6 separate regions of the Homo sapiens genome follow, and all the other regions are linked to region 1. Evidence: fine-mapped expression QTL. A gene starts in region 1. Each other region holds a variant in brackets. All regions are shown on one strand. Distances are between the middles of the regions.

Region 1 (5,083 bases):
ACCGAAAAACCCCTGTACCTTCATACTCGACTCTCACATTTTAAGAAGAGGATCACTACATTAGGCATACAGTTATGAAGACAAAAATATTTCAGCCACAATCGTATTTCCATTATAATAACTATCGTGGCTCATGATAGAACTTTACAGCCCAAAGATATGATTAACATGACGATGCTGTTTCAAGTAAGCAGAGAAAATGATTTATTCCCACAAAGCAGTATGAGAATAAAAGAGTGATGAGTGCTCCGCAGTTAGCAGAAAGAAAAGGCACCCTCATTGTCTTTTGGATGGGAGACCTACTCTTCAGAAGTGAAACTAAGATTTGTTTTAAATGACCAAAAGGAGAGCTTGAGGAATAAATATACTGTACATTCCACCCTCACACCCCGGGGGGTGGGGCGGGGGGGAGGCAGTGGGGCAGCACACAGTGCCTTTCAGAGGGACAGGTGTTTGGAGGGGCTTCTGGGAACAGCCTGGCAGATGAGGTGTCAGACTAAGGAAAAAAAGGGCAAAGGGAAGGGGAAAGGGGTCCTTAGTCAGGCAGGGGTAGGTATAGAGGAGGAAGAGTTTTGTGGGGAGGGGAGATAAAAGAGTATTCACCACTGCCACTCCATTTCAGCTGGCAAAAAGTGTCAAGCCTGAGAGGAGTGAGGTGTGGGAAAGGCCCAGACAAGTGAAGCTGTACTTCCGAAGCTGATCAGGGACTGGCAGCAGGTATTCAGGAATCCAGGTCAAATGGGGGGAGGCGACTGGACATGAACTAAAATTGGGTGAGTTAGATTTCCCAGTACATGGGTACCAGAGACTAAGAGGAAGCCCTGTGCCTGTGTAGAGAAAAGTTAAGAACAGGAAAGAGGGTCCCCTGGAACCAGGATCGAGCAAGACGAAGGTATGGGGTGGGGAAGTCTGGATAGAGGCCAGGAAGACTGGGAAAAGACTGCAAATGGTCCCAGAGCAGGGGCAGGAGGCCTGGGGGTGGAGAAGCTGGAAGGAGCTGGGTGCCTGGACCATGAAGAGACAGAAGCAGTGAGTGGAACAGGGGACCCAGGAGGCAACATCCCAACAGACTGTGAGCAGCACTCAGGGAGTGAGTGCCTGGTCTTGAGGTGAGGCCAGGGCCTGACCAATCAGTTGCGGGTTAGGTGCTCCCCCGTCTGGGGGTCTGATGAAGCCCTCCTAAGGAGATCTCAGGAGGAGGAAGACCCCAAGGTCTGCGGATTCCTGGAACTGAGGAAGGGGCAGGAGGACATGTCTCAGGTCTGAGAGAATCTGACGTGGGCCCAGACATGGGGAGGGTCCCAAGTCTGGTGAAACCAATGGAGAGTTCTTCAGGGTCTGAAAAGGGCTGGTGGCAGTCCCTGATCTAGGGACGACAGGTCATGGGGAGGAAGGACCCAGGCCTTCTCCGAGTCATGAGGGGCTTCCGGATCCCAGACGGGCCGGTCACGGGCTTCAAGTCTGGGAGTGTTCGGGGTCCGCCAGGAGCCGGTCACGACGGGCTCTGGGTCCGAAGGGGCAGGTCAGGGCTGGGGCTCGGAGAGTGTGAGACACAGGCTGGGAAGGTCCCGGGTGGGAAGCGCCGGGTGCAGGAGGCCCCGGCGGCGAGGGCCTGTTCCGCGGCTGCGGGGTCGAGGAGCCGAAGCGGGCACGGCCCGTGAGCGCCGCGAGGAGGCCCTCGGGCCCCGGCCCGGCCCGGCGCTCACCTGCAGCACCACCTCTACGTCGTACGAGTTCCCCTTGCTCTTCTGGTGGCCGCGGAACTTGGAGCCGCTGTAGAGCAGGCTGGTGGCCACGCCGGGCTGCTGGGTGTTGATGGGCGGCGGCGGGATGAGTGAGGCCGCGGAGGCAGCGGAGGCACCGGCCGGCGGGGGACACTCGGTGCGGACCGGCATCGCGGGGTCCCCCGGAGCCAGGGCTGGGGGGAGTGGGAGAGGAACCGCCGCCGCCGCGCGGGAGCCGAGGAGGGTGGCGGGGAGGGAGAGGCCGGGGCGCGCACGCGCGGGGTGGGGGCGGGAGGGGCGACCACCCGCCCGCTGCCTGCGGAGCAAGCGCTCCGGCCGCCACCGGGACCCAGGGACCTGCGAGCAGGGCCTCCCAGTCCTGAGCTGGGTCCCCCTCCCGACTTGCCCTCGCGCACACATACACACACACAGACACTCACAGACACACAACACACAAACACACACAGACACACACACACCCCGCCCCTTCCGATTGGCTCAGGCGAGCCTGGGGGGCGGGAGCAGGCTCAGGCGGCGCTTCCGCCCATTGGCGGGAGGAGAAAACACGTGGCGCGGTGCGCGAGCGGCCCGCTGGGACTTGTAGTCTCCTCGCCGAGGCGCGGCGTGGAGGGGGCGGGGCGAGGTGCGTTTGTGATGCTGATTGACTGGGGGTGTGCGCAGGAGGCGCGCGGCGGCGACGGCGCGCCGTAGGTGTCATGCGGAAGATGGCGGCGTCCAAGGGAGGTTGAGGGCTCTGAGGAGGCGTTGAGAGGTTTCCGTACAGCCCGACCGTGCGGCTTTGGGGATCCCATCGCTCTGTGTTTCCTGCTCCAGGTTTCGCGTCTCGCATCTTCCCAGACCCTCGGGCGCGATGTGGAGGAGCTGCCTCCGGCTGCGGGACGGGGGACGCCGTCTCCTGAATCGGCCGGCGGGTGGCCCCAGCGCTTCTATGAGTCCGGGGCCAACCATCCCGTCTCCAGCCCGGGCTTACGCCCCGCCGACAGGTAAGACCATGACATGTTCTTTTGGGTTGGGGCCGAGCTGGGGTAAGGTGGGCTTCGGGCTTCGGCTGTGCAAAGCGAAGTAACTGAGGCAGGGTTCAGGCTCATGAGGTTATGCAGGCCAGTCAGGTCTTTTTACAGATGAGAAAGTGAAGCCCAGACAAGGGCAGACGACCCGAGAGGGAACAGCGAGTCACGCACGATACAGTAATTGATATTTGGCCTGTGCAGGTTTTCTCAAAGCTTATGGCTGCCCTCCCTTTAATAAGGAAAGCAGGTGTCATCTTTGTTTTCAAAAGGGGAAGTTTGGGCTCTGAATCAGGACTTCGTCTGGGTTACAGGCAGACTCTCTCAGAGGTTTGTGGTGTCTGTCTGACTGTTTTCCGTGTCTCCACTGCCCAACACAAGACCTGCCCAGAAGGGACCTAGAACCTGGGCCTTCATTCCTCCATCCCGGGCACTTCTGCTGCAGGTTTCCTGACTTTCCCTCCTACCACAACCTCTGCCATCTGCAGCCTTCTCTCCTAAATAGAAATTGACACCTCCACCTCTGACTGTGGAGTCACCTCCACCTCCAACTCTGATGAAGCTTAGAAGTAGTGGCTCTTTCATTGCTGATGGTGAGTGGTGTCAGGGTAAGAGTGAGAATGACTCATTTCAGTGAATGAAGAGCAGTAACACCCTCCCACCATTCAATTAGTTTTATTGTGCTGGAGGCAGGAGGCACGGTTGTCTTTAAGACCCACCTGTATGTATTGGTAGAGAAGCTCAATTAAAGAAGAAAAAGGCCCACCTGAATGATGTTCACTGTTCATTGCAAAAGGTTATAATATTCTGATTAAATTGTGGTTTATAATATCCTGATAAGGGACATACAAAGAAACTGTGAGAACACAGAGAATCGCTTACTCCCATCTTGGGGATGTTCAGGGTTTAGAATGGGTCTTGGGTGAAAGGGCGTTTGTTTAAGCTGAGCCATGATAGATGAGTAGGAGTTCAGCAAAAAGGTGGGAGAGTGTTGGGTATCTAGAACGTGTCCAGGGTGACAGCAAGGTATGAGGGACTTTTCCCTGACACTGCCTGTTTTAGAAAATCCAGAACTTCACAGGCAGTTTGGCATTGTGGCAGGAGTGCAAATCTAGGATCTGATGCTGGCTGAACCTCTGAGGTCTGTGTGATCTTGGGCATGCAACTACTTCCTCATTTTTCTCCATGCGTTGAAGTACTAGGTTGCCTTTGAGGATCTTTCTGGCTGTCAAGTTCTTTTTTTTTCTTCTTCTTCTGTTTTTTTGTGTTTTTTTGAGACGGAGTCTCCTCTGTCACAGAGGCTGGAGTGCAGTGGCACCATCTCGGCTCACTGCAACCTCCGCCTCCCAGATTCAAGCGATTTTGTGGTCTCAGCCTCCCAAGTAGGTGGGACTACAGGCGTCTGCCACCATGCCCTGCTAATTTTTGTATTTTTAGTAGAGATGGGGTTTATATTGACTAGGCTGGTCTCGAACTCCTGACTTTGTGACCCGCCCACCTCGGCCTCCCAAAGTGCTGGGATTACAGGCGTGAGCCACCGCGCCCAGCCAAGTTCTATAACTTTATAGAAATGGGGAAGGGGGCTGGATGCAGCAGGGAGCTGAAGTTTCACCTGCAGGACTCAGGGGAAGGGCCTGGAAATGGGCCATGAAGGGCCAGTAAAGAAGAGAAAGGAAGGGCATCCCAGGGAGGCATAGCAAAGGGGACACATTCAGGAGTTCACCAAGTTGGCAAAAAGCAAAGGGTTAATTAATTTATTTATTTACGTATTTATTTATTTATTTTGAGATGGAGTTTTACACTTGTCACCCAGGCTGGCATGCAATGGTGTGATCTTGGCTCACTGCAACCTCTACCTCCCAGATTCAAGCAATTCTCCTGCCTCAGCCTCCCAAGTAGCTGGGATTACAGGTGTCCGCCACCACACGTGGCTAATTTTGTATTTTTAGTAGAGATGGGGTTTCACCATGTTGGCCACACTGGTCATGAACTCCTGACCTCAGGTGATCCTCCCGCCTCAGCCTCCCAAATGCTGGGATTACAGGCGTGAGCCACCATGCCTGACCACAAAGGGTTAATTTAGATTTGTGGATGCTCACTTTACATAATGGTGGCACTTGATCTACTGCCTTCTTTTCCTTTTTAAAAAGCCTAAACTTACTAGTTAGGCTCTTGGAAGTACCTGGCACATGGTAGGTAGTCAAATGTGAAAGAAAATAGGAATGAATGAATGAGAAGGGAGGTGCATAAATCAGGCCCATGCATGCTTTTTTTTTTTTTTGAGACAGAGTCTTGCACTGTCACCCAGGCTGGAGTGCAGTGGCGCAATCT
Region 2 (5,083 bases), 93 kb after region 1:
ACTCTCTCCAAGGTAGGGACTAGGGCGTATTTATCTTGGTATCAAGATTATCCAGTACAGCAAGTCTCAGTGAAAGGTTGATAAACAGAATTTAGTACACTTGGTCTTTCAAAATGAAACTATTTGACTAAGGAACTTAATGAAAGACAAACATTGTATCATGATACAGTCATTTAATGTCTCTGAGCCTTAGTTTCCTCAATTATGACTAATATATATCTCTTAGAATTGTTTAATGTTCAAATTGGATAATGCATGTAAAGCACTTGACTCATTAATTTTCTTTTCCTCCATCAAAAGTATTTCTGAAATGAGTGGATTCTGAATTTGGACTGTAACCAGGTATATTCTGGAAAGAGTATATATTTAAAAAAAAATAGAACAAAGATTTTTCTTTATTTTAACAGTGTGACCCCTCATGCTACCAAAAGAAATTAAAAATGAATACAACTTGTTGTACTTTCTGGAAAGAACAAAATCTTCAAAATCAGACTTCACTTTGAGTCCCAGCTCCAGTAACCTCTTTGAGCCTGAGCTTCCTCATCTGTAAAATGAGGATAGAAGTCCTATTTTTAAAAGTATGTGTCGGGGCATTAAATGAGACGTTTGCTAGGGCTACCATAACAAAATACCACAGACTGGAAGGCTTAACCGAACTTATTTTCTCATAGTTCTGGAGGCTGAAAATCCAAGATCAAGCTGCAGGTTTGGCTTCTTCAGAAGCCTCTTTCCGTGGCTTGCCAACAGCTACTGTCTTGCTGTGTCCTCACATGGTCATTCCTCTGTGCATGCATGATTGGATTAGGGCCCCATTTTAACTTAATCACTTCTTTAAAGACCCTGTCTCCAAATTCAATCAGTCATATTGTGAGGTACTGGTGCTTAGGGCTTCAACATGAGAACTTGAGGATGGCACAATTTAGCCTACAATATTTGCAAAACAGAAAGCTCACTGGCCTGGGCACGGTGGCTCATGTCTATAATCCCAGCACTTTGGGAGGCTGAGGCAGCAGGATCACTTGAGCCCAGGAGTTCAAGACCAGCATGGGCAATATAGTGAGACCCCCCCACCGTATAAAACTGAAAAGCTCACTGGATGGTAGTAGCTCTTCCTATTTAAATCCCAGTTCTAGTGTTCTTTCCTGTTCCTTGCTGAAGATTGTATTTACTGTGTGGGATTGTCCTGAGGGCTGGTATAACTAGTTAGTACTTTCCTAACCCTGAGGCACTTCTGTTAAAATTAGATCAACACTTAGGCTGGCACGGTGGCGTACGCCTGTAATCCCAGCACTTTGGGAGGCTGAGGAGGGCTGATCACTTGAGGTCAGGAGCTCGAGACCAGCCTGGCCAACGTGGTAAAACTCCATTTCTACTAAAAATACAAAAATTAGCCAGGCGTGGTGGCACATCCCTGTAGTCCCAGCTGCTTGGGAGGCTGAGGCAGGAGAATGGCTTGAACCCAGGAGGCAGAGGTTGCAGTGAGCCAAGATTGTGCCATTGCGCTCCAGCCTGGGCGATAGAGTGAGACTCTGTCTTAAAAAAAAAAATTAGATCAATACTTAGACCAATATAATGAGCTGATGTTTAGAGAGCAAAACAGGCCTCCTGCAGCCTCTGCACCCATGAGCCTAGCTTAGGGTCAGTAACTTGTGGTTTAGCAAAAAACAGACTTAACTTTATAATGTTAGCAAAGGATTAAGTTTTAAATATATCAGAATCGAGATGGGAAAGAAACCTAACAAAGTGCTAATAAAAAATAGAATTGGGTAAAAATATTATGTTTCATGAAAGAAGCCAGACACAAACAGCTATATATTGTATGATTGCATTTATAAGAAATGTTCAGAATAGACACATCTATATAGAGAAAAGGCAGATTAGTGGTTGTAGGAGGCTGGGAGAGGGGGAATGGGAAGTGACTGCTAACAGGTACAGGATTTATTTTTAGGATGATGAATATATTCTAGAGTTACATAGTGGTGATGGTTGCACAACTCTGTGAATATATGTACTAATGCCACTGAATTGTACACTTCAAGAGGGTAGATTTCATGGTATGTAAATTATATCTCAATAAAGCTCTTATACAAAATTGAATTACGGCAGGGTGCGGTGGTTTATTCCTATAATCCCAGCACTTTCGGAGGCTGAGGCAGGCAGATTGCTGGAGCCCAGGGGTTGGAGACCAGCCTGGTCTCCAACATGATGAAACCCCGTCTTACCAAAAAATATGAAAAATTTAGCCAGGCAGGCGTGATGGTGCACCCCAGTAGTCCCAGCTACTCATGAGGCTGAGGTGGGAGGATCACCTGAGCCCGGGAGGTTGAGACTGCAGTGAGCCATGATTGTGCCACTGCACTCCAGCCTGGGTGACACTGAGACCTTGTCTCAAAAATAGACATCTTTTTTAAAAAATAAAAAAAGAAAAAAGATTGAATTAGGGTGGTGGCAGACTTATGTGACTAGCTTTTCTTCTTTTTTCTTCCAGTTTTCTATAATTACTTTTTCTCTTTTTTTAAATGGAAAGAGTCCTACATTTCATTAAGATACTTAAGATCCAGTTTTATGTGGTGCTGAATTATAGCTATGCAGAGAAAGTCTCCGTGAAATATTAAGGTCACTTTTGCTCACAAAATATCAATGATTAACTAAGATGTATAGGCTGTAAATAGAGAGAAGATGGGTATGTATGTGATAAGGAAGTTTAATGAAGTTTCATCCTATGTAATGTGGGTCTCCCTAAGAGAGGGTCTATCTTTTCATCAATAGCAGATCTGTGGTCTGTATTGTCTGATGAAGTCCACCTGGTATTGCACATTGAAATCCATGTTTGTTTTGATGTATAAGTGTTCTCTCAGAGAACAGCTACTTCCCAGTTTGACACTGTTTTCAATCCAGTGCCAATGCCAAGAGATTTCTGAGCCATATATATATTTTTAATGTAAGTTAAATAATTCATCAAGGAATGAGAGAGAGAGAGAGAGAGAGTGTGTGTGTGTGTGTGTGTGTGT[A/GTA]TGTGTGTGTGTGGTGAAACATTTGGCTCTTTCCACCTAATTTTTAACCTTGTTGGTCCTACTGGCAATCTGTTTCTTAGCTAATGACTGCATAAAATCATCTCTGAAAAGAAAGCTAAAGACTTTTGCATTACCTTTTGCCAGTTTCTGCTTTAAATCCACCCTTTGGTATTTGCAAAGGTCAGATGAGCTATTTTGGTGTCCACGGCCCTGATTAATGGGAAATCCTACATTTCCATTGGCCCCGGAGGATGAAGGATTAGTGTGGCGGCGGCAGTGCGGGCAGCATCTGCTGCAATGTCAGGAGTACGGTGTTGGGAATTGCAGGAGCATCCGGCCTATGAAAAATGGAGGAGGAGGGGAGCTCCACTAGTACTAGCCCCAGATGAGTTTTTCTCCATTGCCATCAGGCAGACATCTCTGGGAGCATTTGTTCTCCTCTGTTAGGCCTTGTCGCTAAGCATTTAATATGGAGAGCACAAGTGCGGACCTCCTGTTTCCCCGCCGGAAGGCTTCCATAGCTCCCTGTTAGTCGGCATGTTTGTGTTCAGCTTTTCACCTCTCCTTGTAGGAGACGTTGGTTTTATACTATGTTAAATAAAAATCATTGTGTTAGCTCATAGATTTTCACAAGAGAAGCAGGTGCCTGGTGCTTTGGGGAGAATAACTCCAAATATGGGAATCTCTTTCCCCACCCAAGAGCAGATGGTCTGCGTTAGTTTGTCTTGTGACCTTTCTTTGCTTCTAAGACACCAAATCTCTGATCCCACGGATCATAAATATTCTTTAGGTTTGCAGCCATGGAGGTGAAGGGAGCGTCAAGCTGTCGGTGTCATTTTCCATTTGTCTGGAACCTTTCAAAGAAACTGTTACAGCATTTTTAGGCACTGAATTAGCCTCCTGCAGCCGTGAGCTTACAGACTCATGAAGGGCACCGCAGCAAGGCTGCCTCAGCCAAGGTCAGGAAGGAGCCCTCTGCTCAGCATCCCTTTGCTCAGCATCCTGCCGTCCTCACCTGTCCACTCACCAGGCAGCCTCTCACGGCAGCCACTTTGTGCCAGGCACCATGATGGCTTGCACAACCCCTGCCTGCCTATCCGGGGGCTGCATTATTTATGTCGCTAGTAGTGTTAATAAGCACCTTGTATTGATCACCTTGTCTGCTGCCTCTCCCTGCCCTAGAGCCCACCTTCTCATCCAGAGGAAGACCCTCAAGTGCAGTGTGGGGGTGCTCTGATAATGTAGCAGCATGCACTGAGAGGGGCAGAGTAAGGACTGCCTTCACAAAGGAGGTGACATCTGAGCTGCTCTCTGGTAGGAGTTTACCTGGAGGGGGAGGGATGTGCAAGGAAGAGAGAACATTGGAGAAAAGGGGCCTGTATGTTTGTGGCAGCTAGACCTTGGGCTCTGGATGTTCACGTGGGGCCCTGGCAAGGGGTAGGAAGTGGAAGTCAGGGCTGGTTAGAGATAGTCACCCTGAGGATCAGGTTGAGGAGTGTAGACCTTATCTGAAGTGAAGTGGGGAGATCTGGGAGGTTTTTAATACTTAGGGGGAAGATGAGATCAGATTTTCTGTTTGGTGCAGACCACCTGGGGCAGTGTGGAGTGTAGACTATGGAAAGAGAGAGTGGAGGAAGTGATAACAATGAGGAGGCTGCAGCAGCAATCCCCAAGAGAGATCTGGAGGCAGCTCAGCCTTCGGGCTCCCCTTTCCATGCATTTGCACTGGCTGCTCCTTCTCTCCTTTGCCTTCACATTCCTACATTCTCTTTTGGATCATCCACATTCTCTCCATACCCAAGTGTTGTTACCTTGCTGAGGCCTTTTCTGCACTCTCCAGGCAGCAGGATTCAGCCCTCTGTCGCACCCCAGCAGCAGGCTGGTCTGCCACTATCTGACCCCTATAGAGACTGCTTTGCCTTCCTAACTCCCTAGCTCTAATTAGCAGCACTTTGGACCCATATCAAGATGGAAAGAAGAAAGGGTTTTTTAAAGTGACTGTTACAGTGGATTGGAGAGGACTCAGAATTTGGGGACAGAACATACCCCAGTTTGAGACCTGCTTCTGCCTT
Region 3 (5,083 bases), 120 kb after region 1:
CTTAAGACTTCACCTAAAAATCAGGAGGGTCTTTAGACTTCACCTAAAAATCAGGAGGGTGGGCTGCATCCAATACTCTGGACCGTCTATTGTGGAGGCCAGGGTCTTCTTTGCCTCTGTGACCCTCTACCTGAGGATGGATCAGGGTCCAAGGCCAGGCTTACCAGGAAGACCTGGGTCATGTGGTTGGCAGTATTGCTACCTCCTCTCTGCACACTGTGGGGCTAGTCACCCCACCAGGCTTCATTTTCTTCCTATTAGAGAGAGAGAACCTTCCTGGCGGCTGGGGCGTGGGATGGTAGGGTTAAATGAGGTAATGTCTGTCAAGAACCTGGCTCAAACCAAATAAACAGGTTTTCATTCTCTCTTCTGTTTCTCCATTTTTTTGGTGAAAAGAATGAGAGCCATTTCCTTGAAGACTTGAGACCAGTGGTTCAATGGTAGCTTTAAGGGCAAGAAACTGCCCATAGGGAACTTGCAACAACACCGTGGCCCCTCCTCCCCCATGCCCCACTTCCTGGGGTCCAGGAAATGTGGACTTATGGGGAATCTTTTTACTAGATGGTCTCTAAGACCTCTTGGAGTTTTAATGCTTGGATTCTTAAGGAAATTGTGGTGTGCCTGCTCCTTTACCCTACAGGTGGGGCAAGCCAAGTTTGGGGGCTTCCTTCTGGAAGCATGGAGGTCTTCCTGGCTCAGTAACCCAGAAATCCAGAAAGCTAGAGCTCCCAGGGTTTTGAATCTGATGGGTGTAGCTTGTGGATGGCTGTTTACCTGTAGGTGGCAGTGGTGACACGGGAATGGGAGAGGAGGGGGGTGCAAGGGGAGGGCACTGGCAGAGCTCCTTTCAGAAGAGCTGTAATAAAGTTAGAAGTAACAGCAAGGAAAGGTCCTCTGTATTAGAGGCTCTGTCAGGTGTTTTCTGTATTATTTAGTCTCCTCTAACAGCCACTGTGTGAGAGAGTGCTGTTATTGCAGCATTTTGCAGCAGTCCAAAAGGCTTGGAGAGGTCAAGTTATTGCCTGTAGTCACACAGTAATTGGCAGAACTAGAACTCACCAAAATCTGAGTTCACACTCCCTGTTCTAGACTCCATTATAATGCACATTTCTCCTGCTTCTAAGTCTGAAGGGAGAACCGGGGACAGCTGGGAACCGAGCTCTCATCTCACCAGACTGCCCAGTGCCTGTCACCTGGGGGCCTCAGAAGGGTTTATAATCATCATTTTACTTATAAAGGGCCCTCATCAGCATAAAGCCAGGCCTTCTTGACATGAAGATGTCCTGCCTCCAAGCAGCTTCCAGTTTAGGTTGGGGTTGGGGGCCAAGAAGATACTTAACGGCTCATTAAGCCGGTAAGATTTGAAAAAGTTCTCAGAACATTAGAATGGTCTTGAAGGCTCAGTCCTTGTGTGAACTGTACTATCAGGTGCTGGAGCCCATCAGAGGGCCTCTCTTGTGGGCGGCAGCAAAGAAGGTTCTGGAGAGGACGTTGGATGGGAGCTAGATATGGGCAGATAGGCTGGAGAGAAGGCTTTCCAGACAGAAGTCTGAGGTGACTTTCTCAGGGCTTGCAAAGACCTGCAGATCCTGTTATGGTTCCTGTTTTCACCCTCTTGCAATTTTTTATGGAATAAGGACTCAAATGGGTCTTCTCTTCAGCTTTGTTTGCTCTCATGGTGTATGACTGTGTTTTGTAAAAATATATATAGGCGCAACGATGCTGCCTTTCACCACTTCTATTCAACATGGTATTGGAAATTGTAGCCAGAGCAGTTAGGGAAGAAAAAGAAATAAAAGGCATCTCAATGGGAAAGGAAGGAGTAAAATTATCTCTGTTCCCTGATGACATGACTTTACATGTAGAAAACCTTGAAGATACCACAAAACAAAAAAAAAAAGAAAAACTGCTAGAGCGAATAACATAAATTTACCAAAGCTGCAGGATACAAAATCAACATTCAAAAATCAGTTGTGTTTCTGTTAATATACATTAACAATGAACAATCTGAAAAGAAAAGAAAACAATTCCATTTACACTAGCCTCTAAAAAAATAAAATACCTAGGAATTAACCAAGGCAGCAAAAAATTGTGCACCGAAAACTATAAAACGTTGCTGAAAGAAATTAAAGAAGAAAGAAGACATAAATATATGGAAAAACATCCTGTGTTCATAGATGGGAAGACAGTTTTTTTTTAAGGCAGCCTCATTGTGTTGCCCAGGTTGGAGTGCAGTGGCTCAATTACGGCTCAGTGCAGCCTTGACCTCCCGGGCTCAAGTCATCCTCCCACCTTAGCCTCCTGAGTAGATGAAATGACAGGTGTAAGCCACCACTCCTGGCTAATTTTTAAATTTTTTGTAGGGATGGGGTCTCCTTATGTTGCCCAGGCTGTTCTTAAACTCCTGAGCTCAAGCAGTCTTCCCACCTTGGCCTCCCAAAGTGATGGGATTTACAGGCATGAGCTGGCCTGGGAAGCTAATATTTTTAAGATGACAACACTACCCAAAGTGATCTACAGATGTAATGAAATCCCAGTTAAAATTGCAATGAAGCCAGGCATGGTGGCATGCACATGTATTCCCAGCTACTTGGAAGGCTAAGATGGGAGGATTGCTTGAGCCCAGGAGTTTGAGTCCAGACTGGGCAACATAGCAAGACCCTGTCTCTGAAAAAAAAAAAAAAAAAAAAAAAAAAAAAAGACCAATGGTATTTTTTTCAGAAATAGAAAAATCCATCCTAAAATTCACATGAAATCTCAAGGGACCCCAAATAGCCAAACAACCTTTAATTTTTATTTATTTTTATTTATTTTTTTGAGATGGGGTCTTGCTCTGTC[G/A]CCCAGGCTGGAGTGCAGTGATGTGATTTTGGCTCATTTTGCAACCTCTGCCTCCCAGGTTCGAGTGATTCTCCTGGCTCAGCCTCCCAAGCACCTGGGACAACAGGTGTGCGCCACCACGCCCAGCTAATTTTTTAAATTTTTTAATTTTTTTAGATGGAGTTTCACTCTGTCTCCCAGGCTGGAGTGCAGTGGCGTGATCTCGGCTCATTGCAACCTCTGCCTGCTGAGTTCAAGTGACTCTCCTGCCTCAGCCTCCGGAGTAGCTGGGACTATAGGTGTGTGCCCCTGCGCCCAGCTAATTTATGTATTTTTAGTAGAGATGGGGTTTCACCATGTTGGTTGGCCAGGATGGTCTCAATCTCTTGACCTCGTGATCCACCTGCCTCGGCCTCCCAAAATGCTGGGATTACAGGTGTGAGCCACTGTGCCTGGCTAATTTTTGTATTTTTAGTAGAGACAGGGTTTCACTGTGTTGACCAGACTGGTGTCAAACTCCTAACCTCATGAGATCCACTCACCTCGGCCTCCCAAAGTATCGGGATTACAGGCGTGAGCCACTGCGCCTGGCCCTAAACAACCTTTAAAAAGAACAAAGTTGGAGGACTCACACTTCCTGATTTCAAAACTTACTTCAAAACTATAATAATCACAACATCATGGTATTGGAATAAGGAAAGACACATGGACCAATGGAATAAAGTAGAGAACTCAGAAATAAACTCTCCCGTATATGGTCAATTGATTTTCAGCAAGGGTGCCAAAAGTATTTAGAGGGGAAAGGACAGTCTTTTCAACAAATGGTGCTGGGAAAACTGAATATCCACATGCAAAAGAGTGAAGTCGGACCATTATCTTATACCATATGCAAAAATGAACCCCAAACAGACCAAAGACCTAAACATAAGAGCGAAGGGAAAACTATAAAAATCTTAAAATAGGCCGGGCGCGGTGATTCATGCCTGTAATCCCAGCACTTTGGGAGGCCAAGGCAGGCAGATCACGAGGTCAGGAGATCGAGACCATCCTGGCTAACACAGTGAAACCCCGTCTCTACTAAAAATACAAAAAATTAGCCTGGCATAGTGGTGGGCGCCTGTAGTCTCAGCTACTCAGGAGGCTGAGGCAGGAGAAGGGCGTGAACCCAGGAGGTAGAGCTTGCAGTGAGCTGAGATCGCGCCACTGCACTCCAGCCTGGGTGACAGCGCAAGACTCCATCTCAAAAAAAAAAAAAAAAATCTTAAAAAGGGGAAATCATGACATTGGATTTAGCAAAGATTTCTGAGATATGGTACCAAAACCACAGGCAACAAAAGAAAAAATAGATAAATGGGACAATCAAAATTTAAAACTTTTGTGCATTAAAAGATACAATCAAGAGAGTGAAAAGACAACCATAAAATAGGCGGGATTAATATTCAGAATATATAAAGAACTCTTACAGCTTAACAACCAAAAAAAAAAAAAAAAACCTACTCAGTTTAAAAATGGAGCCAAGCATTGTGGCTCATGCCTGTGATCCTAGTACTTTGGGGGGCCAAGGCAAGAGGATCACTTGAGGCCAGGCGTTCAAGATCAGCCTGGGTAACATAGCAAGACCCCATCTCTACATAAATTTTTTTAAAGAAAATTATCTAGTTGTGGTGGTGCATCCCTGAAGTCCCAGCTACTTGGGAGGCTGAGGTGGGAGGATTGCTTGAGACCAGGATTTCAAGGTTGCAATGAGCTATGCTGCTATGATTGGGCCACTGCACTCCATTCTAGGTGACAAAGTGAGATCCTGTCTCTTAAAAAAAAGGGGTGAGGGGCCAAAAAAATTGAATAGATATGTCTCCAAAGAAGATATACAAATGGCCAAAAAGCACATGAAAAAATGCTCAACATCAGTAGTCATTAGAGAAATACAAAACAAAACCACACTGGGATACCACTTCACACCTGGTAAGCCAGGATCCCATCATTGAATTGGTGGTACCAATATTTGATCCTAGTTCTGTCTCTAAAGCCTGGATGTTTGCATGATATAGTCTCACCTGCTAGCAAAGCCTGAGTTTGGATCTGAAGTTAATATCTTGGAGGAATTCTGAAACTACCCCATCCTAACTCTCAATTCATGAAAGGATACCATCACCACTATTTTAATAAAAGTTTAATACAATCCACACTTCGCCGATACTCAGATAATAACATAGAAGACCTCTGTACAGGCTGGAAGTATCCTTGTTTTACTGGATGCAGCTATGGT
Region 4 (5,000 bases), 82 kb before region 1:
CACTCAATGGCATTTACAGCTCATACAACTCCCAGGCACACAGGTGTTCCTGTAGGCCTGTGGGCACATACGCAGGCCTGTGGGGCCCGGCTGGAGGCACACGGTGTGCAGGCACATGCTCTACCTGTCCACTTGGCACATACATGTGGGCGCACAGCTGGGTCCCTCCCTATGCTGGGGGTCTGGTGAATGGAAGTCCTGATGCCACCTTTGGGCTGCAGGGTCTCCTCTGTGAGCACACGTCTGTGCACATGGGCAGAGGGTGGGCAAACAACCCTGACCCCCAGGGATGCCACATCTGCTCAGACCCCATACACTAGCTTTCGTCATTTGGCTGTGGTACACACTTGCACACATGCTCAGGCATGCAGGCCTGCGCAGGATCCACATGACTGGGAGCACACACGTGTACACCCTCAGCCTTTCCAATCCCAGCTGCACCCTGAGCAGGCGAGGAAAGAGGACACCAGGAAGGAACCCTGCATGCCTGTCGCTGGACTGCTAAGTAGGGCACAGCGAGTATCACCCTTTCGGCCCTGGCCTCCGGCCCACCCATCTGCCCACGTGCTTGCCAGCAGCCGCAGACCCTGAATAATTCAGCCACTCACGTATTCCAGGGTAAGGAGGACCCAGGCATCCTTGCCCCTCACCCCTAGACGCCCTGCGCCCCGCTCCCGCAACGCTGCAGCCCACACAGCGCGGGGCATCCGCCGCCGGGGCCAGGGCCCCCTCAGCAGCCAGGCTGCCCCGGTTGCCATTGTTGGGCCCGGCTGGCTGCCTGCTCCGCCAGGCATGGTCTGCAGAGGCTGAGACGCACCTGCTGCCCCTGCTTGCCCCGCCCACCACCCCGGCATCCTGAGAGAGGCTCCGGTGACCACGCACCTCAGCCAAGGGCCACCCAGCATCAGGCTCGAGTTCCACCTTGAGTGTGGCAGCCAGGCATGGGCTGGGCACCCATCCGAAGGGCTGCCTACCCTGCACCCCTCATGGGGTTCCAGAAGGACTCCTGGTTCAGTTTTCCCTCTGTGCAATGAGGAGTCTGGAAGTTTGGATCCTGAGCCCCTCACCCTGACCTATTCCAGAATCCTGCAGCCCAGGGGACTTCAAAGGGCAGCAAAAACCCTGAGGAAACAGGAGGCTTTAATTTGGGGGAGGGTCAGTAGGAGGCAGGAGGAACTGCAGAGACCTGGATGTGCGGTGGAACAGGATGGATAGGCATGTCCGGCAGTTTCACATCTGGCTTGGCCAAAATCTCTGAGGGGAAGTTAGGGGCCAGACCTGTCATCCAGATTGGATCAGGGCAGGGCTGCCCAGGGCCCAAGCCGAATATGAACAAAGATCCTTCCCCAGAGTGACCTGGAAGCAGTTTCCCACGTCTCTGTCCTGGGCCTGCCTGTGCTGGGCATCCCCTTGTTCAACCCTCCAGAGGTTCTGGGAGGTCCAGGCTGTTCTCCCCAACTTACAGACCCAGAGACTGAGGCCCCAGCAAGCAGCCTCTCTCCAAGGTTGCACAGGGCTCCTCAGGCTGTCTCTCTTGCCCTGTTTCCTAGGCCAGAACCCTCAAACCCTCCGTGTAATCTGTGCCTCCATACCTTGTTCCGCCAGCTTGGCGGGCCGACCTCCTCCCAGGAGCCCCTAAGGGACAGGCAGGCAGCTCCAGGGCCCAGGTGGCAGGACTGGGGATGGGTGTGTACTCGTGGCCAGGGTCCATAGGCATCTGCCCGAAGCCAGAGGCAGGACCAGCGAAGACTACAGGCTCTTGGCTTGGGGTCCTGAATGGGCTGGACTTGAGGCTTCAGGGTTGCAGGCCCAACTCGCTGGAAAGAGCTCAGCTTCTGCACACGAGGCATGACCACAGCAAAACGCCCAGGGGCTGCCTGGCGCCGTTCACCCCCCTTGGGCAGGGGCTCTGGGGCCCTGATGGGCGCCAAGGGGGCTGCGGCTTGGGGCAGTGTTCCCCAGCGGTGCCATGGTGGCCATGTGGCCCTGGTCTGGTCACACGCAGCCAGTGGGTATGAGAGGCTGGGCCTTAATGTCTTTTGCTCTGGGAGGACATCCTTGGGGGGAGTGATATCCTTGGGGGGAGTGACATCCTTGGGAGGTGCTGGGGTTGGAGGCTTGGTCTCTGCTGGCAGCTGGGGGTCCCCCAGGGTGGCCTCTTCTTCAGGCTTCTCAGGGGTTGGGCCAGCTGATTTGGTGAGCTGTCCAGGCCCCGGCTCATGGTGTCTGCCCAGGAAGACCCTGGTCATATCAGCAGCTGGATCCTCAGGCTGGAGGGTGGGGGATGGCACAGGGCCCAGGAGCTGGAGAAAGGGGTTTTCCGGCACAGGGGGTGGCCTGGAAAAGCCTCGGCGGCTGCCTGCACCTCCTGGCCAGGGGGAGGGTGGGCGTTGGGTGGGAGGCATGTCCACGTCCCAGCTGGGGGCCAGTGGGGGCACAGTCCAGGGCGTCTCTGAGTCCTCGGGTTCTCGCGGGCTCTCCCGGTGTTCCAGGGGCGCCCGCCAGGCCCCGGCCCTGGGCGGTCGGTGGAAGGGCAGGCGCACTTGCGGCTTCACAGCCCGAGTGGGTGGCTCGCTGAGGCGCCGCCACGTGTGCGGGAGGCGCGAGGGCAGATTCAGGGAGCTGCGCCGCGGGCTGTG[G/A]CAGAGCCCCAGGGGCGGCGAGGGCGGCCTGGGTGAGCCCGGCAGCGGCGAGCCGGGTGGGCCCAGGCGCCCAGCGGCTCGGCGTGGGGCTGGGGACTCCTGCAGCGAGCGGGGCCGGCGGGCCGGGGGCAGGAAGGGCGGCTGGAAGGGGCCCGTGCGCAAGGACAGCTGAGGCGACGGGGGCGCCAAGGGTGAGCAGTAGCCGAGGCCCGGCGAGCTCCTCAGCGAGGGCTGGGGCGAGGCCAGCGGTGACCAAGCTCGCCTCCGCGACGCCCGTGGAGAGGCCCCGGGGAAGCCGAAAGCCGCCCCTCTCCGGCGGGAGCCCCTGAACGAGGGTCGGGGCCCTGGGAAGGCTAGTAGGTCGGGGGGCACCTCCGGGCTCACGGCAGGGGGCTCCACGAAGGCCCACCAGCTGGCCTGCGGCGCCGGTGGCACGTGCGCTGGGGCGGCCCAGGGCGGCGGGTGGCGGCGGAGGGAGCCGTAGGGCGAGGCCGGCCGGGGCAGGCCCGAGAGCGCCGGGGAGAGCGGCGGCGCGGGCGGGGGCCCGGAGCTTGGGGGCCGCGGGGGCACGGGCGGAGACAGGAGCGCGCTCCAGTGGGAGAGGGTCCTGGGCGCGGGCTGTGGCGCGGGCGGGCGGCGCGCGTCGTTGCTGCTGCGAGCGCGTGGCTGGGCCCTCCTCAGCACGATGGGCGTGCCGGGCTTCTCGGGGTCCATGCCAGCCAGCTTGTAGCCGAAGCGTTTGTAGGCCGCCTCCCTGACAGCAGGGCCGCCCGCCCGGGCCTTCTGGCTGCCCCTGAGCCGCGCGATGGGCTTCTTCTCCGACAGCGTCTTCTTGAGGAACCGCGCAAGCGAGGTGGCAGGGCGAGGCACGGGGCGGCCAAACTCAGGGCCGAAGCCCAGGCCCCGGTGGGCGCCGAAGGCCGACAGCGCGCGCTGGAGGTTGCGCTGGCGCGGCGTGAGGAAGCCCCAGAAAGGGTGGCCGTAGGGCACAGCGGAAACCGGGGGCAGCTCCTCCTCGTCCTCTTCTTCGTCCGCATCCCCCAAGGGGAGAGGAATGTCCAGAGAGGGTGGCAGGGGCACCTCCAGCTTCTCCTTCCCAAACAGCTTCACCTGGGGTCGCGGGAAGAGGCGGAACTTGCGGATGAGGGACAGCTTGGACCTGGCGGGCTTATCCATGCCTTGCTGCTCGAAGAAGGCGGCGCTGGGCAGGCGGAAGGAGGTCCCCTGACGCTCTACGCCCGCGTCCTCTGGTTCCTCCAGCTCGGCGATGTCATCCATGGCGTGGGCATACGGGTTGTGGGGCGACGGGATGGGCGGTGGTACCCAGGGGTACACAAAGGCCGAAGCCGACTCCTCCGGGTAAAAATAGGGCACCTCGGGGGGGTAGATGGCCTCGTCCCCACCGCCATAGACGCCTTCGGCATAGGGGACGGTGTAGTGGACTCCGTAGGGATCAAAGTAGGGTACATCGTAGGGAGTGTGGTATGGGAGGTCATAGGGTGGGTATGGCGCGTCGTACGGCGCATAGGGATCCAGGTAGTAGCCATAAGGGTGCGCCTCGCCCTCGTACCCATCGTGGTAGCTGTAAGGAGACGAGTACCCCGACGGGGGCGCATATGGGGGTTCGTAATCGTCGTAGCCGTAGCCGTAGGTGTACCCCGGATCAAAGGGGCCACCGTAATAGTCGGGGTGGTAGTAGTCGTAGGGATCCTCGGGCGGGTACCCGTAGTAGTGGTCGCCGTAGGGTGGCCAGGCCGGGCTGTAGGGGCCGAGGCCCGCCAGGTAGGGTTCCTGCTCCTCGTAGCGGTGGAGTGACTGCCGGTCGTAGTAGTCGTCGCCGTCGCGGTGATAGTCATAATACTCGCCCAGGTCCTGGAAGCCCTCAAGCCCGTACAGCGACTTGCGGGAGCCCGAGTGATGGAATGGGGCCTCGTCCTCGAAGGGCAGGAAGCCCAGGGGCTCGCCTGACGCGTAGATGCTGCGGCTGCGGGGGAACCTCCGGAGCCGGCCCCCAGGCCGCAGGATCTCGGCACCCGACGGGAAGGGGAGTTTGCGGGAGCCCATGCGGGAGCTCGAGCGCTGCAGCCAGGCGTCCACTGTGGCCTGTTCGCTGCCCGACTCCTCGGCCTTCTTGAGGAGGAACTTTTTTGTGAGCCAGTTGATGGCCGTGGACGCTTTGCTGAGTGACCGGGCGCGCGGCCGCAGGCGGCCGTAGCCACGGCGGCCTGGGAAGCGGATCACCATGAAGGACGGCTTCTTGCCCTTCATCGCCCGCTTCTTCTTGCCCATGCGCATCTGCGTCATGAGCTTTGACGTGGACTTGAGCACGGTGCGGGCCTTCCTCTTGCGCTTGGTCTTCTG
Region 5 (5,083 bases), 56 kb after region 1:
CCCATCCTCAGCACCCCAGGGATCCAGCTCTTCTGGCTGTGGTTGGGTCCCTGGGCACCTAGTGCCATGGCTGGACAAAGACCAGCTTCTGCCTATACTCTGAGGGGCAGTGTGACCTCTTAACAGAGCCTGCCCTCACTGCTCTAGCACCCCCATCCCAGGGAGCACTGGCCATCAGTCCAATGACCCTTGGAAGCGTGGATGGCCACTGCAAGGGGTTGGGGGAATGAGCTGACTAGGAAGTGTGTGTGCAGGGGCTCCAAGTAGTAGGAAAATAAGCTTCTGTTAGGGAGGGAACCAAGACCAGTATTCAGGTTTCTCTCTGGGTAAGCAGACAGAAAGAGGGAGCTGTCATGGGGCTCAGTGGTACTTGCTTTATGTCTGAGAGACAGCCAGGCCAGAGAGCTCCTGCTTAAAACCATGGCATTCATGAATCAGCATTAATGGGTGCTAGAGTGCAGAGAAATGAGAAACCTGGGACAAGAGACCTGGGCCCAGGTGTGAGAGGACCTGGCTGTGGTTTGCTCCTGCTACCTGTAGCACATGACTCCATCAAGCTGGTCAGCCTCCCTGAGCCTCAGTTGCTGCATGTGTGAAATGGCAGCATAACCCTGCCTGTGGGTTTGCTATGGGCTTGCAATTGTCAGCACAAAGGAGGATGGGAGTGTTTGGCAAATTGGAAGGCTCACGATGCCCCAGGGTGCCCTTATTACCAGAAGACCGCCTAATAGGATGGAGGGAATGTGGGCTGTGAGGTCAGACAGGCGTGGGGGTGAGTCCCAGCTCTGATACTTCTTGGTCGTGCAGCTTTGGGCAAGTGCCTGGGGCTCCCTGAGTCTCAGCTCCTCTTCTGTAGATTGGGATTATAACAGATGCCCAACTCTTAGGATTAAAATGGGGGTTAAACAAGACAGGGCATAAGGAGCTCTCAGGCCCATCACCTTCTCCCTGCTAGGGACCCATTGCCCCTCACCAGATGTGAGGATGCTCCTAAGAGGCCAGCAGAAGGAACATCTCATCAAAACCCTCCATGGCCTTGGCAGTGAGACCTGATGTGGTGTGGTGACCTCAGTTTGCTCATCTCTATGACGGGGATGCTGTGTGAACTGAAAGACCCATATGGAAAGCATATAGGCCCCACTTAGCATGTAGTTAAGTGCTTGATACACACTAGCCTCTGTGACGATTATTCCTGGTTTCATCTGGGTCCCACCAGCCAATGGTTACCTGTCGATGGTTATCTGTCAGCCTGAGTCTAGATTAAATAGGAGTCCACAGCTGCCCCTTTGTACCCCATCCAGACTGAAAGTTTGGGCAGATGAGAGCAGAATATTCTGTGGTCTTGTGTCTGAGCACATCTTTGCTGCACTTTGCCCAGCACAAGCCCTAGGCTTTTAAAAAATAGCAGCTTTCTTGCTCCCAGCAGGCAGAGCTTCTGCCGTACCCTGGCTAATGATGGGCCAGCAGCTGAGTGTCGCACACAATTATTGTCTCCTGGGAAGGCAATAACCTTGTCAGGGTGTCACCTTCGATTAGGGTGGACACACAGAGGAAAGGGCCTTACCCAGCCAGACCAGGTGTGCGAGGTTCTCCAGGCCCTCGATCTTCTCAATGATGTTATTGTCCAGCTGCAGCTTCCTCAAGTTCTCAAACTGCCAGAGGTTGTCTATGCGGAGGATGTCTGAAATAATGGAAGGTGATTTCAGTCTCAGGTTAGGGTCAGAGTTTTGTGCTAGTGTACAGGAGGAGTGAGGCAGAACCACACAAAAGGGACCTAGAACTCTTCTGCCCTGCCCTGGAGTACGCAGGCACCCTGGAGATGTCGGCTGAGCATCGAGGAACATTGTGTCCCTATGAGGTGGGCGGGGATCGGTACTGCCACCCAGAGCCACAGAAAGACCTAATAGGTTTACTAGGGTGGAGCTAAAAAGTTGCTGGGGTGGAAGTGAGCTGGACCTGGCTGGGCAGGAGACTCGCTTGTGCTGTTTCTGGGGCCAGGCCAGGGACTCTCCAGGAGGCTGGTCCACCTTAGGACACAGGACACAGACAGAGGCCTTCCTTCCACAGTGTGATAAATAGAATGAAAACATGTGTCTCTGTTGGTAGGAGGGTTGATTGCCTCATTCAGCCTTTTTGGAGCACTGTTTGGCAATGTTTTTTGAAATATTTAAAGTCAGTGCCCTTTGAACTATAATTTCTCTACATGGAATCTATCTCCACACTGTATATATGTCCAAAGGAATCCCTCAGGCACGTAAGGGGCAGAAAAGCTCCCAAATGTCCATACGTAGGGGATGAGATAAGTCATCCATGCAAGAACGAGGCAGGTTCCTGATATCACGGAAGTGCCTGGCCCCTGTGGCCTGTGAGGACCACCCACGCCAGCTACACAGCTGGTTCATTCTGTTTGCTAGGTAAGCCAGAGTTTGGTTTCTGTCACTGGCAGCCAGGAGAGTTCTGAAAAACACATATGTATAAGTAAATATGTACTGTATATGTAACACTCTAGAGGCCAAACTTGTCTGCCAGGTTTTCCCAGAAGCCACGTACAGCTCTGTTGTTTATATGCTCCTTTTTTCCATATTTGCTTTTGTAATGATTTCTAAAATTTATAAAATTAGAATATGCTCATTAAGGATGGGCGCAGTGGCTCACGCCTGTAATCACAGCACTTTGGGAGGCCGAGGCGGGCGGATCACAAGTTCAAGAGATCGAGACCATCCTGGCCAATGTGGTGAAACCCTGTCTCTGCTAAAGATACAAAAAATTGGCTGGGCGTGGTGGTGCACGTCTGTAGTCCCAGCTACTTGGGAGGCTGAGGCAGGAGAATCGCTTGAACCAGGGAGGCAGAGGTTGCAGTGAGCCAAGATCGCGCCACTGCAATCCAGGTGACAGAGCGAGACTCCATCTCAAAAAAAAAAAAAAAAAGAATATGCTCATTAAAAGAACTGAAATAATACAGAAGTGAAAGAAGTTTTCAAAATTGGTGCTGTGGGCCAGGCGTGGTGGCTCACGCCTGTAATCCCAGCACTTTGGGAGGCCAAGGTAGGCAGATCAGGAGGTGAGGAG[G/A]TGGAGACCATCCTGGCTAACACAGTGAAACCCTGTCTCTCCTAAAAACACAAAAAATTAGCTGGGCGTGGTGGCGGGCACCTGTAGTCCCAGCTACTCGGGAGGCTGAGGCAGGAGAATGGCGTGAACCCAGGAGGCGGAGCTTTCAGTGAGCCGAGATTGCGCCACTGAACTCCAGCCTGGGCGACAGAGCGAGACTCCATCTCAAAAAAAAAAAAAAAGAGATGGAGACCATCCTGGCCAACATGGTGAAACCCTGTCTCTACTAAAAATACAAAAATTAGTTGGGCGTGGTGACACGCGCTTGTAATCCCAGCTACTCTGGAGGCTGAGGCAGGAGAATCGCTTGAACCCAGGAGGCAGAGGTTGCAGTGAGCCTAGATTACGCCACTGAACTCCAGCCTGGATGACAGAGTGAGACTGTTTAAAAAAAAAAAAAAATTTGGTCCTGTGGCTGGGCATGGTGGCACACACCTGTAATCCCAGCACTTTGGGAGGCCAAGGCCGGTGGATTGCTTGAGACCAGGAGTTTGAGACCAGCCTGGCCAACATGGAAAAACACTGTCTCTATAATAAAAATACAAAAATTAGCTGGTGTCCCTGTAGTCCCAGCTACTCAGGAGGCTGAGGCAGCAGAATCACTTGAACCCAGGAGGCAGAGATGCAGTGAGCCAAGATCATGCCACTGCACTGCAGCCTGGGTGACAAAGCAAGACTCTGTCTCTAAATAAATAAATAAATAAAAAAAAATAAAAATCGGTGCTGAGGCATTGTGCCTCAGAGGAGCCTGAGCCAGCCAGTCTGCTGCATCCCTGCCACGTCCCCCACTGTGTCCCCTGCCAGGACCGACTGACCTGAGCCGGGCTGCCATGGACCACACGCCCCTGCTGTGGGAGTGGCTGCCCACCTACAACCTAGGGGCCGGCCAGGGCAACTATGCATGCAGCTTGCATGGCTACAGCGTCATCCCTGCTGCCCATCCCTTGCTGCTGCCCGCCCTCCCCTTACCTCATCACAGGGATACCCAACCACCACCCCAGGGTCTACAATGACCACAGCTGGACTATCACTTGGTACCCTGCCAATGCCATCGCCATCATGAGAGGCTGTCCCGTCTGCAGGGATAGGGTGCTGGAGGACTGCTTCACCTTCCTGGGAATCCTCCTGGCCATCATCCTGTTCCCCTTTGGGTTCATCTGCTGTTTTTCCTGGAGGAAGCAAAGATGCCCCAACTGCAGAGCAGCCTTTGCTTAAAGGGAACTTACACCTGGCTTTTCTACACCCAGCTCTCTTTTTCTAATGTACAATAGTTTTATTTGATTAAGCTTCAGGACTGTTTTGTAAAGTGAGGTGCGACAGATGTGGCACGCGGGAGCCAGGGTTTCCTGGAGCGTGGAGAGGCAGCGCTGCTGCTCCTGAGGTTAATGAGAACTCAGTAAAGCACTGCTTTTATTTTTTGCAGTCTTCAATTTGAGAAAGGTGAAATATAATGTTTTCAATAAATGAGATTCATGCCAAAAAAATAAAAAATACAAATACAAATTAGTGGCTAGGTGCGGTGGCTCACACGTGTAATCCCAGCACTTTGGGAGGCCGAGGTGGGCAGATCACGAGGTCAAGAGATCGAGACCATCTTGGCCAACATGGTGAAACCCCGTCTCTACTAAAAATACAGAAATTCACTGGGTGTGGTGGTGTACACCTGTAGTCCCAGCTACTCTGGAGGCTGAGGCAAGAGAATCACTTGAACCCGGGAGGTGAAGGTTGCAGTGAGCCTAGATCGTGCCACTGCACTCTAGCCTGGCGACAGAGTGAGACTCCATCTCAAAAAAAAAAAAAAAAAAATGCTGGGCGCAGTGGCTCATACCTATAATCCTAGCACTTTGGGAGCCTGAGGCAGGCAGATTGCCTGAGCTCAGGAGTTCGAAACCAGCCTGGGCAACATGGTGAAACCCCATCTCTACTAAAATAAAAAAAATTAGCCAGGCGTGGCCGCATATGCCTGTAGTTCCAG
Region 6 (5,083 bases), 21 kb after region 1:
ACCGCTGTGTTCCTGCATTGTATCCATCTCACCTCCTCTCAGCAGCCTGGGCAGGTAGGAGCTGTGGTTATCTCTGTTTTACACAGAAGGAAATGGAGGTGCAAGGTTGCACCTCTGGAAAATGTGCCAGCTGGGGTTTGAAGCCAGGTCTGGTGATTTTAGGGCCAAGGCCGTCAGGCCTCACTCTGCACAAGGAGGTTCACGGGTGGATAAAGACCATCTGGGCTTGATAAAGCCTGCAGAACAGGCCCTGCCAAGATGACTGAGAACCCGTTTGTGCTCCTTCATCAGCTGAGCCTTCATACCCTGACATTTTATCTGGCTGGCAGAGGAGCATAGGGGTAGCTGCTGTTTGTATACAAGTTTTGATTTAGTGGGCTCAGAATTAAGGTTTTGCCACAGTATGGTTTGCATTTTTTAACTCTGAAAATTATAGCCATCTTTGCAGTCTTTTTATTGTTATTCCACCAACCTCAGAAGGTTAATTGCTATTATGAATTGGTCCCTAATATGGTAAAAACAAACAAACAAAAAAACACAAAACTTTTTGTGATGTATTTCCCTAGTTCTTGTAGTCTTCTGCTCAGAAAAATGCCAGGGAAAAAACTATTTTTGTATAACAAAGGAGGCCCGCTACTATTCTCTGGATGTCAGAACTGATTACATAGGAAGGGGGTGACTTGTAGGGCTGGTGGGAAGCCAGTCTGGGCTCTGCTTCTGACTATGGGACCCAAGCCAGGCCATCATTCTCTGAACTTTGGTTTCGATCCTCTACAAACAGAGGAATAACCTGAATTATGTATGTGATGGTATACAATGAAAGTATGGAATACTCTTCAGATGACATATTACAATTGTACAGTTTGGGACCAGGCAGCCCAGAAGTTCAAATAGCTTGTGTAGCATGGTGGATTCTGAGTTCCTGGATGAGCTGGGGCGGCCAGGCCAGGCCTCTTGGGCAACTAGCCAGGGAGGAGCCAGCAAGGTTTGGTTGGACTTACACTGTCTGGACAGCCACATCGTGTGTCTGAGCGTTCCTCCCTCTTGTTTTTAGAGCTCCAGACAGAGAATCTGCAACTTGTCCCCAGTGTGCAGAGCAGAGGCATCTGTAGTTCTGTGACTACCACAAGAGTCAGAGTTGAAGCCACTGCGTGGCCTTACTTGATTTAGTTATTCCACCCACATGGCGCTGGGGGGCACTTGTAGCCCAGCATGGCAAGGCAACTTGGAGAGGCTGTCCATTCACAGGCTTTCTGGGAGGAAGTGTAGGAGAAGGGATGGCACATAAGGCCTCCTCAAAGAAGTCACATGGGTGGTTCTGGTACCCAGCCTGCCCAGTGGTGGGTGGGCAGCCACTGGCCCTGGGCCTGGGCCTGGACTGCACTTCTTCCAGACCATCCATGCCACAGAGAGCACAGGTGCCTGCTCCGGCTCCCTGGGGGTGGGGTGGTGGGGTGTGTGTGTGTGTGTGTGTGTGTGTGTGTGTGTGTGTGGTGTTTTTGAGACAGGGTCTTGCTCTGTTGCCCAAGTGGGAGTGCAGCGGTGTGATCTTGGCTTACTGCAGCTTCAGCCTCCTGGGCTCAAAGCAGTCCTCCTACCTCAGTCTCTCAAATAGCTGGGACTACAGGTGCACCCCCACCACACCCAGCTAATTTTTAAACCTTTTTGTAGAGGCGAGGTTGCACCATATTTGCCCAGGCTGGTCTTGAACTCCTGGATTCAAGCAGTCTTCCTGCCTCGGTCTCCCAGAGTGCTGGGATTACAGGCGTGAGCCACCGTGTCTGGCGTACCTGGGTGTTCTTACCTGCCACCTCCCCCTAGGCATGTCTCATGTGTTTTGGCAAGATACAAACCTGTTGCCCTCAGCCAACCTATTGGAATGGAACGTGGCTTTGGTCAGGAGGCAGCCAGGCACTGGCCACTCACCCAGCAACTTGTCTTGTCCTTCCCTCAGATCCA[G/A]AAGTGGGGCAACATTGAGTGGGCCCATGACTATGAGCTGCAGGAGCTGCGGGCCCGCACCGCCGCCGGCACCCTCTTCATCCATCTCTGCTCCGAGAGCACCACAGTCAAGCACAAGCTCCTGAAGGAGTGAGGCCTGGGCAGAGCACACTCAGCAGGATAGAGGCAGTGCAGCCACAGCTCCCCCGGCCTTCAGGGCTCCCCAGCCTGTGGGGCTGGCTTCCTTGGCTTTTGGGGACTCGGCCTCAGCGTCACCCTGAGATTCCCCCCGAGACACAGTGCGCTAGTACGGCTGTCCGGAGGTCAGCCTGATTTCAACCCAGGTGCCCCTGGCCTGGCCAGCAGTGAATGTAGGAGATGAATTGTGCAAGTGACTTTCTCTCGACTCTGATTTTATTAAATATTTCTCCACCCTGGAAATGTGCTGAGCCCTGTTTTCACGTATGCCTCTGCACTTCTCCATTCTTCCTGTTTTGTCTAGGTTCCAGAGGGTTAAACAGCTTATCTCCCATGGCGTGTTTGGATATCTGCTGCCTGTGGTCAGGAACCTTGCACTGGGGAAACAATCATGTAATCCACAGACAACTCTATTTGTGTTCTTCAGCCTCAGCCTGAAGGCTTTTTTTTGGCTGGCTTTTAATCAAACAATCTTTTGAAACAATTGTGGTCTAAGCTGGTTGTTTCTATTTGTTCCTACTGTTCTAAAACAAATGATTTACTCTAGAAAGTAGAAAATAGAAGTTGTTTCTGGGCTAAAAGCCTGGACAGGCTTGACAAGGTCACCTGATGTGCATGTTTCCGCTCATCTCCCACCCAGGAGTCCTAAGGGTCCTCCTGACATAGCCACCTCTAGTGTCCCAGGAGGCAGGCGCTACTTTCTGGTGTCAGGCCAGTAAGAGGGCAGGGGGGAAGAGTGGTTCTCAGGCAGACAGGCTCTCTCAGCCCTGTGTCCTTGCCAGCCTGAGTAAGGTAATGGCATCAACCCTGCTCACAGGGCACTGATCGCATGCTGGGTGCCTCTCCACGCTTCCCATGCACTGTCTCCCTGAACTGTTCCTCGAAGGCACTGTGAGGTACTGTCACAGATGACACCAGGGCTGCGGGGGTGACATGGTGGAGCTGGGATGCCCTGCCTGCACTCTGCTCTTCTGGAGGGTCCTCAGGTCCTTGTGGCTAACCTCAGCCTTGGTGGGCAGGCCCAGGCCCCAGCACTGTGGTGGGAGCTGCAGCCTCTCCTCCTGCTTCCCTGCCCCTCAGCACCCAGAGCAGAGAAGGTCTTAGCCCACACCGGCCTCCTTTTGCCTGTGGCTGGCAGCCTGCCTAGGCATGGCAGGGGAAACGGCAGGGGCACGTGTCTGACTTTATGCCACAGCCAAGAATCTAGCTGATGGCAGTGCCCTTGGGAGTTGCTCTGTCAGCTGGCCTGGGACCGGCTGTTCATCTCAAACTCTTTCTCTTGTTCCTACATGAACATTTTTTTTTTTTTTTTTTTTTTTTTTTTTTTTTTTTTGAGACGAAGTCTCGCTCTGTCGCCCAGGCTGGAGTGCAGTGGTGCGATCTTGGCTCACTGCAACCTCCGCCTCCCAGGTTCAAGTGATTCTCCTGCCTCAGCCTCCTGAGTAGCTGGGATTACAGGTGCACGCTACCACATCTGGCTAATTTTTGTATTTTTAGTAGAGACAAGGTTTCACCATGTTGGTCAGGCTGGTCTCGAACTCCTGACCTCGTGATCTGCATGCCTCGGCCTCCCAAAGTGCTGGGATTACAGACGTGAACCACCGCACCCAGCTGATTTTTTTTTTTTTTTTATGAGTAGGGGAAATGTGAAATGAGTCCTTTATTTTCTCTACTTTTGGAAGTTTTTCCAGGGGTGGGGGAAGAATGGTGTTGGGGATCGCGGTTGAGAGATGCCCAGCAACTCTCTAGAGGTGCGGGTGAGGCGTGTGCACTTCCTTCTCCTGGCTGGGGCTGGTGCTATGTTTTGAAGAAGCTCCTGTGGCTGACATTCATCTAGTCTAGGATGTCGCCACATTCCAGGTTGTCCAGTTCGCTCTGCATGTGGTCGATGTACTGATTGATCTCCTTCACGCGCTTGCGGTTCCTCATGATCTCATCCTTGTGAATCTGAGGAGTGAAACCAAAGCCCGATTCCTTACATCAGATCATTGGTTAATATCTTTCACTGAATCCAGTTTGAGGGAAGGGGAAAATAGTTCCTTTAGATCTGCAAACCTCATTTGCTTCAGCGCCTCCCCAGGTTCTGCTGATCTCTGTATATTTGAGGTAGGAATTAGGAAAATGATGAAGCCCATGGGTTTTAAAGTCTCTGGGCAATGTTGTCTTCAGTGTGGAATTCTATAATCCTTAATTTTATTTCTTCCTTCATTTCATTCCTTAATGAAAATTCTATCCACTACCTAGGGAGGATTTCCATGTCAGCTAGAAAAGTTCATCCAGCCTGCTAGGATGGCTTGGGATTGACTCACCCTGTCTATTAAACGTGTACACCAAGAGTTGATTCTGGTCACCAGCTCATCTTCTCGATTGTCAATCTTCAGGAGGTGGATGTCGTGCGATGCCCCGACAGCATTAACAATCGTATCTTTATCGACAAAAAGCTGGTGAGTGAAAAGAATCCAATGAGAAAGTGTGTGTCATTATACCGTGAACACAAAGGGAGCTGAACAGAGAAGGAGCATTTGGAAGTCCCCTGGCTGTGCAGGCCACACTCAGAGCAGAGCCCACCTTTGTATCAGCGCACTCTGCCGATTCATCTGTGAATTCATCTGTGACAGCCGCTTCCCCAACTGCACAGGGCAGGTGTTGTGGGGAAAGGGCCAACCAGGGTGTTACTTTGCAGTCCCCGCTGGAAGCATGTTTCCTCCAGGGTGAAGGCAGATGGCTGCCCAGGGGGCACCTCACCCAGGACATCTGTTCTCACAATGCTTCTCTCTCAATTACTCTCAAGTCTAACTTGCCCAAAACCTCTGCCTGCTGGGTGGAAGCATGAGGCTGGCTGAGGGTCTCGAGGCTGCTCTGAAGACAGCAGGCCCTACAAACTCATGGGTGTTCACCCCACAGTTGTCTCTCCACTGCCACTCATGTCAACAAAACCAAACTTTGG

Alleles and levels. Positions count from the first base shown, and alleles are read on the strand shown. Sizes are in standard deviations (SD) of each study's normalised expression. Not every link is listed here.
With allele A in place of GTA in region 2, the expression in skeletal muscle of the gene that starts at base 2,441 in region 1 is higher (moderate effect, 0.67 SD a copy in FUSION).
For the expression in sun-exposed skin of the gene that starts at base 2,441 in region 1, A is the low allele of the variant in region 6 and G is the other (moderate effect, 0.58 SD a copy in GTEx).

What was found.
Region 2: its variant is fine-mapped to the expression of ATPAF2 in skeletal muscle (FUSION, PIP 0.93).
Region 3: its variant is fine-mapped to the expression of ATPAF2 in whole blood (INTERVAL, PIP 0.92).
Region 4: its variant is fine-mapped to the expression of ATPAF2 in whole blood (INTERVAL, PIP above 0.99).
Region 5: its variant is fine-mapped to the expression of ATPAF2 in fibroblasts (GTEx, PIP above 0.99).
Region 6: its variant is fine-mapped to the expression of ATPAF2 in sun-exposed skin (GTEx, PIP above 0.99).

The regions. Positions count from the first base shown.
Region 1 is chr17:18,036,526-18,041,608 of GRCh38, reverse strand. It overlaps ATPAF2 (ATP synthase mitochondrial F1 complex assembly factor 2), which reads left to right and starts at 2,441. Exons shown (of 8, transcript NM_145691.4): 1 at 2,441-2,728. The coding sequence starts at 2,596. GID4 (GID complex subunit 4 homolog) reads right to left here and starts at 2,201. Exons shown (of 6, transcript NM_024052.5): 1 at 1,707-2,201. The coding sequence starts at 2,144. RefSeq lists enhancers at 1,193-1,252, 2,403-2,512, 2,653-2,702, 2,713-2,782 and silencers at 1,603-2,192, 2,203-2,292.
Region 2 is chr17:17,943,196-17,948,278 of GRCh38, reverse strand. All of the region lies in intron 1 of TOM1L2 (target of myb1 like 2 membrane trafficking protein), which reads left to right. Among named protein-coding and RNA genes, the nearest start is that of TOM1L2, 27 kb to the left of the region's middle. The variant A/GTA (reference allele first, on the strand shown) is at 3,012.
Region 3 is chr17:17,915,068-17,920,150 of GRCh38, reverse strand. The region is part of intron 1 of TOM1L2 (target of myb1 like 2 membrane trafficking protein); the gene reads left to right. Among named protein-coding and RNA genes, the nearest start is that of TOM1L2, 55 kb to the left of the region's middle. The variant G/A (reference allele first, on the strand shown) is at 2,839.
Region 4 is chr17:18,119,002-18,124,001 of GRCh38, reverse strand. It overlaps MYO15A (myosin XVA), which reads right to left. Exons shown (of 66, transcript NM_016239.4): 2 at 1,593-5,000. Among named protein-coding and RNA genes, the nearest start is that of MYO15A, 13 kb to the right of the region's middle. The variant G/A (reference allele first, on the strand shown) is at 2,640.
Region 5 is chr17:17,980,426-17,985,508 of GRCh38, reverse strand. It overlaps DRC3 (dynein regulatory complex subunit 3), which reads right to left. Exons shown (of 14, transcript NM_031294.4): 4 at 1,565-1,681. The region is part of intron 2 of LOC107984989 (a long non-coding RNA gene); the gene reads left to right. It also overlaps the pseudogene BRI3P3. Among named protein-coding and RNA genes, the nearest start is that of DRC3, 10 kb to the right of the region's middle. RefSeq lists an enhancer at 3,953-4,453. The variant G/A (reference allele first, on the strand shown) is at 3,070.
Region 6 is chr17:18,015,558-18,020,640 of GRCh38, reverse strand. It overlaps DRC3 (dynein regulatory complex subunit 3), which reads right to left. Exons shown (of 14, transcript NM_031294.4): 13 at 4,446-4,577; 14 at 3,752-4,083. The coding sequence ends at 3,970. ATPAF2 (ATP synthase mitochondrial F1 complex assembly factor 2) reads left to right here. Exons shown (of 8, transcript NM_145691.4): 8 at 1,955-2,620. The coding sequence ends at 2,092. Among named protein-coding and RNA genes, the nearest start is that of ATPAF2, 21 kb to the left of the region's middle. RefSeq lists a silencer at 3,192-3,486. The variant G/A (reference allele first, on the strand shown) is at 1,960.